2 linked regions of the Homo sapiens genome follow. The protein of the gene in region 2 purifies or fractionates together with the protein of the main gene of each other region. This does not show direct contact. Each region holds a gene or a part of one and is shown on either strand. Other genes may lie near its edges.

Region 1 (3,816 bases), on a different chromosome or scaffold from region 2:
AGATCATAGTTACAGAAAATATTATGAGGATATTTGGTCCATTTGGTCTTTGGGTTCCAGAAACTCTCAGTGGGAATGTTGGGTCCATTAGGAGAGGAAAACTTCTCTTAGTAAAAGTAGTCACAATCTTTAGGTAATCTGGAAAATGAAATTAAGATGACCTCTATGCCTAAATGAGTGAAGAACAGAGGCAATGGGAACAGTTGAGGAAAATGAACAATAGAAAAAAGGGCAACTGAATTGGCTCCTATTAATCAGATTAAATGATATATAAGGCCACCAATGCAAGAATATTTTCTAATATCTTAAATGTTATAGGAGAATGAGGTCAAAAGATGTGATTAAGAAATTCTTTATAACTCAATTTGCCCTTACATGCTATCAGGCATCTTATTAATCTCCTTTCTTCTCAGATTTTTGCCATCTTCTACCTCCTAACACTGTTATTTTACCATTGCAACGCTCTCCCAATAATATCTATTATTCCATCATTTTTACCTTAATGGTAGTGTGCATTAAAAAGTGGGACCAAAGGCAATAAAAATTTATCCACTGAGATGATACATAAATTCAATAATTCCTAATAATGGAATAAAGCAAATGGTATAAGCTGACAAAAAGAGGAATGAGTATTTGAAGGGTGACAAGACAGCAAATCCAGACTTGAAAGTGAGTTAAAAATTAAGCAACAGAAATGTAACCATATAAAGATTTATTTTGCTCTGAAAGCAAATGTTATTGATATTATAATGGCCAATATGAATTTATACAACTAACATGAACTAACCTTTGCAATCTGTGTATAAGCTGGATGTTCCTCTGTTGGTTTCATTATTGCTGGTTGTGTATTGGGTACATTAGGCATCTTCACACCGCCTGGTGGAGGCTAGGAGGATTAAGAGAAGGAAAATTATGTAACACAGAGATCCAACTTTAACTTCTTTCAAAAAGTATAACACCAATAAAATGAAAAATCCCAAAATCTGCATCTCTTCATTCCCTGCTCTCTCATAGTCAAGTGTGTGGCAAAGAGCTGCTTAAATTCTCCATCTCCATTTTCTCCAACTCATTCATTTTTCAACTCTACAATCAGACTGCTACTTATAACACTATATGACAAACACTCTCCTCCAGGATACCGTATGTTAATAGAGGCCAGGCATGGTGGCTCATGCCTGTAATCCCAGCACTTTGGGAGGCCAAGGCGTGTAGATCACCTAAGTCAGGAGTTCAAGACCAGCCTGGCCAATATGGTGAAACCCCGTCTCTACTAAAAATACAAAAATTAGCCGGGTGTGGTGGCGGGCACCTGTAATCCCAGCTACTTGGGAGGCTGAGGCAGGAGAATCACTTGAACCGGGGAGGTGGAGGCTGCAGTGAGCCAAGACTGTACCACTGCACTCCAGCCTGGGCAACAGAGCAAGACTCCATCTCAAAAAAAAAAAAAAAGAACTTTTGAGTTTAATAGTAAAATACAGATAGAACCAGACAAAAGAACTACACCAAGGTTTACTGCCAACTCTTCCCTCTTGAGAAAGCTACATGCCAGTGCTCTGAAGAGTATACAGGAAAGTTCTTGGTAGAACCCCACTAAATTTAAAAGAGTAAAAGGGAAGGCGTAAGGAGAGAGAAAATAAATTACCCAACTTCCACTTTGCCAGTGAGGATCAGTAGTGTCTGAAAGCTGCAAGATCAGGAAGTAGACATCTACAAGTCCATCAATGGGGGATTGGTTAAATTACTGTATATACATACAATGCAGCCATGAGAATAAATTAGCGATAGAAGAATGTCTTTTAAAATACTAAATAAAATAAAGCAAGCTGGCCGGGCGCAGTGTCCTATGCTTGTGATCCCAGTACTTTGGGAGGCCGAGGCAAGTGGATCACAAAGTCAGGAGTTCGAGACCAGCCTGGCCAATATGGTGAAACCCCATCTCTCCTAAAAATACAAAAATTAGCCAGGTGTGGCGGCGGGCGCCTGCAGTCCCAGCTACTTGGGAGGCTGAGGCAGAAGAATCGCTTGAACCCGGGAGGCGGAGGTTGCAGTGAGCTAAGATCGCACCACTGCACTCCAGCCTGGGAGACAGAGCAAGACTCCATCTCAAAAAATAATAATAATAATAAAATAAAAATTAAATTAAAAAATAAAGCAAGCTACAGAACAGTCTGTATATGACCTTTTTTTCAACAGACACAGATTTATACATGCCCCCATAAAATATCTGGGAAGTCTCGGCCACCTGATATCAGACGGACTTGCACCTGTTGTTTTATATGCCTCTGTATTATTTGCTTCCCTCGACACATGCACCATATACTACTTTAATAAAAATATATTTTTAAAGTACTCTTTAGAATGACCATAAGAAAAAAACAAAAAACAAGGATGGGAACATGAAAAGAACAATAGAAGCAAAAACAGTAACAGAAAAGAAAAGAAGAAAGGAAAGAAAGAGAAGAGGGAGGGAAGGGGGAGGTCATAAATAAGAAAAATATAAAAAAGAAAGAAGCTGCACAAGGACGTTCAAGGATCTTAAGAACTATTAAAACCAGAAGACACCACCAATATATAGCAGGATTTTACTCTGACACAGCTAACAGCAGCCCTGAAAAGGAAGCCACGCATAACCAAAGATATAACTGTAGTTCAGCTGATTCTAAAATGCATATACAAAAGGCAAGAACCGGCTGGGTGCAGAGGCTCACACTTGTAATCCCAGCACTTTGGGAGGCCAAGGTGGGCAGATCGCCTGAGCTCAGGAGTTCGAGACCACCCTGGGCAACATGGTGAAACCTCGTCTCTACTAAAATACAAAAAATTAGACAGGCATGGTGGTGTGCACCTGTAGTCCCAGCTACTGGAGAGGCTGAGGCATGAGAATCGCTTGAGCCTGGGAGGCAGAGGTTGCAGTGAGCCCAGATTATGCCACTGCACTCCAACTTGGGCTACAGAGTGAGAGTCTATCTCAAAAAAAAAAAAAAGGCAGGAACTAAAAACAGGTCAAACCATTTTGAAGAAAAACAAAGTAGGAAGACCTATGATATCAAGGCTTATTATAGAACCACAGTAATTAAGAGTGTAATACAGATGCAAGGACAGAGAAGTGTACCAATAAACAAAACAGACACAGAAACAAACCCACACAAATGCAGAAACTTGATATCTAACAGAGGTGTCACTACAAAACAGTGAAGAAACAATGTGTTAATCAATAAACGGTGCCTGGATAACTGGTTACTCATATAGGAAAAAAAAACATTTCTTACTTCGCATCATATACAAAGATTAATTCGAGGTAAATTCATGATCTAAAACTGAAAAAGCAAAACTTAAACACTTTCAGGGAAAAATACATGTGAATATTTTTATGAATATTTCTTGAGCTTCTAGAATATGAACTCTAGAAATACTGTGTATTTTGTTTATGACCTATCCCAAGTACCCAAAATAGTCCCTGAAACAGTAGATGCTCAGTAAGTATCTGTCAAATTAAGAATGGAAAACACACACCACACAAAATTGACGAATTTAATTACACTGAAATTTACAAAAAGTAAAAAGTCAAATCATGGACTAGGAAAAGATAGTTGTAATGCATATAACAGAAAATTGCTACCCAGAATATATAAAGAATTGTTACAAATCCATGAAAATACAAACTAATCGAAAAACTAGCAAAAGATCTGAACAAGCAATAGAAAGAGGTCAATAAACATGTGAAAAGAGGTGTAACAGCACTAGTAATCAAGAAGTGCAAAAACAATCATATATCATTTCAAAACCATGAGATAGAAAAACAAACTCTGACAATAC
Region 2 (3,816 bases):
GCTAGGTATACAGAACTGATAAAGGTTGGGTTGGAGAGCATCTTATAGAAGAGGTAGGATGTGGATTGGGCTTTGAGTGATAAGAAGGATTTGGATGAACAGGGAGGAACAGTGAGGGCATTTCCTATGAAAGGTTCAAAATAAAGATTAACAAGGAGCTTGACTTAACTGAGCTGTGTGACTCATGTAGATGAGAAGTGGAAAGTAAGATATAAGTAGGTAGTAGAGGAACTTGAATGCCAAACTAAGGAGTTGACAGATTGGAGTGGAGTATAAAAAGAAACGACAGTATCTGGAGATTGAATGACTGTACTCACTGCTGAAAGTTTTGTTTTGTTTTTTTTCTGAGACAGGGTCTCTGTTACTGAGGCTGGAATGCAGTGGCGTGATCACAGCTCACTGCAGCCTCTCTTTCCTGGGCACAAGAGATCCTCCCACCTTGGCCTCCCAAAGTGCTAGGATTACAGGCATGAGCCACTGCACACAGCCAAAGTATCCTTTTTTTTTTGAGACGGAGTCTCACTCTGTTACCAGGCTGGAATGCAGTGGCGCAGTCTCAGCTCACTGCAACCTCCGTCTCCTGGGTTCAAGTGATTTCTCCTGCCTCAGCCTCCCGAGTAGCTGGGACTACAGGCGCATGCCACCACACCCAGCTAATTTTTGTATTTTTAGTAGAGACGGGGTTTCACTATGTTGGCCAGGATGGTCTTGATCTCTTGACCTCATGATCCGCCCGCCTTAACCTCCTCAAGTGCTGGGATTACAGGTGTGAGCCACCACACCCGGCCTCAATGTATTCATTTTTAAAGAGGTTCTTAGACATTAATATTTCATCCAGTTCTCAGCTGGTCTTGTAAACCAACAGCGGTTATATTTTTATATTTTCAGTAAGTGTTTTTATGAAACAACATTTTTATGCCATTTCTGTTATAGAAAGTAGAGATTAATTGCTTGTCAGTCAACTTTAGTGTTTGTTTTGGCCATGAGGAAAGGTTTGACAGTGTTCTTCCTAGTCTTATCCATTGGCTTCCTATTCTAACACAAGTCTGTTGACCTGTTTACACCTTGGTTGACCAACTGAAAGTTCTGTATTTTTTGAGACGGAGTCTCGCTCTGTCACCCAGGCTGGAGTGCAGTGGTGTGATCTCGGCTCACTGCAACTTCCACCTCACGGGTTCAAGTGATTCTCCTGCCTCAGCCTCCCAAGTAGCTGGGATTACAAATATGTGCCACCATACTCAGCTAATTTTTATATTTTTAGTAGAGACAGGGTTTCGCCGTGTTGGCCAGGCTGGTCTCAAACTCCTAACCTCAGGTGATCTGCCCGCCTCTGCCTCCCAAAGTGCGGGGATTACATGCGTGAGCCACTGCTCCCGGCCAAAAGTTCATATTTTAATAACTATGACTTGTCAATCAGAGTTTAGCAGATTACTTTAAGCAAACAAGTTAAAATGTACAGATTATTTGATACAAACTCTTAGCTATGTTTTACAAACATAATTGTACCTTTCTCTTGTGTTCCATGTACCTTCTTGGAAGAGTACAGAAGAGAGGAAGTAGATGAATTTTCTTGAGATCAGATGTTAGGAGAACAAGGAGAAAGAAGTCTCCCCTAAAATCTTAGAGGAAGATCAGCTCTAAGTCACGTGTTGATAAATAGGAAGAGCACTGAATTAGACCTAAGATGGTCTAATATCATAGAAAGTGGGAAATGCAGCTACAGAGTATTAATTTTATGTCTCTTTGTGTATCCCAGCCAAGCATAGGCAAGCTTTTCTTGAAGACTGGTGGGAAACAAGGTAGGGTATGGTCCTGAATCAGCATTCTTCAGCCTCTAACCTCAGTAGAACCCTTTCTCAGTGGATCAAGAGAAGGCATTACTTTTTTAGAGATGGCCTCTCCCTCTGTCTCCCGGGCTTGAATGCAGTGGTGCCACCATAGCTCACTGTAGCCTCAAACATCTGGGCTCAAGCAATCCACCCACATCAGCCTCCCAAGTAGCTAGGATTACAGGTGTGTGCCACCATGCCCAGCTAATTTTTGAAATTTTTTGTAGAGACAGGGGTCTTGCTATGTTGCCCAGGCTTGTATCAAACTCCTGGCCTCAAGAAATCCTCCCACTTCAGCCTCCCAAAGCACTGGGATTACAGGCTTAAGCCACTGCACCCAACTGGCACTTCTTTCTTTTTTTTTTTCTGGCACTTCTTGAGAGATGGAATCAAGGGGCTGCTGTAACAAAACAGTTCCCTTAAGAGAAGAAAGTATTATCTCAGTTAAAGATGTCTGATTGTAATTGTCTTTCTTCCACCTATTTCTTTCTTACACCATTGAGACCTTGGCCAGTATGATATCTCTTATCCTCAGCTCTGTTCCTATCATTCTTGCCTGTGTCTTGATCTTTCTAATCTGCTAGTCTGTGTTTCAGTTAGGCTCGTCACATGAATAACCATAACATGAGCTTCTTAAAGGTAGACATGAGATCTTAGTCCTATGTGTAAGGCCTAGTCTTCATACCAGCAGTAGCAGTAACAACCCAGGTCAGGTCCAGAGTTCCTTATTTGCCATTTGGAAATACTTTTTCTTTTCTTTCTCTTTTTTTTTTTTTTTTTTCTCGAGACAGGGTCTCGCTCTGTTACCCAGGCTGGAGTGCAGTGGCAGTCATGGCTCACTGCAGCCTCAACCTATCCTCCAGCGTCAGCCTCCTGAGTAGCTGGGATTACAGGCACATGCCACCACACCCAGCTAATTTTGTATCTTTTGTAGAGACAAGGTTTCACCATGTTGGCCAGGCTGGTCTTGAACCCTTGGGCTCAGGCAGTCTACCCACCTTGGCCTCCAGAAGTGCTGGGATTGCAGGCATGAGCCATTAAGCCCTGCTGGCCATTCAGAAATCTAAAAAACTCCTAAAGTTTTGTTTTATTTTTGCTGTAATGGTGCCACAACTCATTAGGGTATAAAATGTAACCTGAACTGAAGCTATGTTTAGTCTTTATTACTTGCTGTAGATATTAATTGGTTTCACTACAGAAATACTCTTTTTGAGTCAGGGTCTCACTCTGTCACCCAGGTTGGAGTACAGTGGTATGATCTTGGCTCACTGCAGCCTCGACCTCCTAGGTTCAAGTGATCCCCCCACCTCAGCCTCATGAGTAGCTGGGACTACAGGTGCATGTCACCATGCCTGGTTTGTTTTTAAAAACTTTTGTTTCTTCTTCTTTTTTTTTTTTTTTTTGAGACGGAGTCTCACTCTGTTGCCCAGGCTAGAGTGCAGTGATGCAGTCTCAGTTCACTGCAACCTCTGCCTCCTAGGTTCAACCGATTCTCCTGCCTCAGCCTCCCAAATAGCTGGGATTACTGGTGCCTGCCACCACGCCCAGCTAATTTTTGTATTTTTAGTAGAGATGGGGGTTCACCATGTTGGCCAGGCTGGTCTTGAACTCCTGACCTCAGGTGATCCGCCTGCCTCGGCCTCCCAAAGTGCTGGGATTACAAGCATGAGCCACCATGCCTGACCCTGTTTCTTTTCTTTTCTTTTTCTTTTTTTTTTTTGAGACAGAGTTTTACGTTGTCACCCAGACTGGAGTGCAGTGGTACAATCTCGGCTCACTGCAACCTTCGCTTCCTGGGTTCAATCGATTCTCATGCCTCAACCACCCAAGTAGCTGGGATTAGAGGCATGCACCAACACCTTGCTAACTAATGTATTTTTAGTAGAGACGGGGTTTTGCCATGTTGGCCAGGATGGTCTTGAACTCCTGACCTCAAGTGATCCACCCACCTCGGCCTCCCAACGTGCTGGGGTTACAGGCATGAGCC

The links. Proteins that work in one complex are often made in the same cells at the same time.
Region 1: the proteins of SNAP23 (region 2) and SCAMP1 purify together in Homo sapiens (affinity purification with western blotting, with the first as the bait; one study listed by BioGRID). This does not show direct contact.

Annotation. Positions count from the first base shown.
Region 1 is NC_000005.10:78,412,590-78,416,405, reverse strand, and holds part of SCAMP1 (secretory carrier-associated membrane protein 1), read right to left. Parts: intron 887-3,816; coding exon 788-886; intron 1-787. UniProt on the Homo sapiens protein: Functions in post-Golgi recycling pathways. Acts as a recycling carrier to the cell surface.
Region 2 is NC_000015.10:42,515,841-42,519,656, forward strand, and holds part of SNAP23 (synaptosomal-associated protein 23), read left to right. Parts: intron 1-3,816. UniProt on the Homo sapiens protein: Essential component of the high affinity receptor for the general membrane fusion machinery and an important regulator of transport vesicle docking and fusion.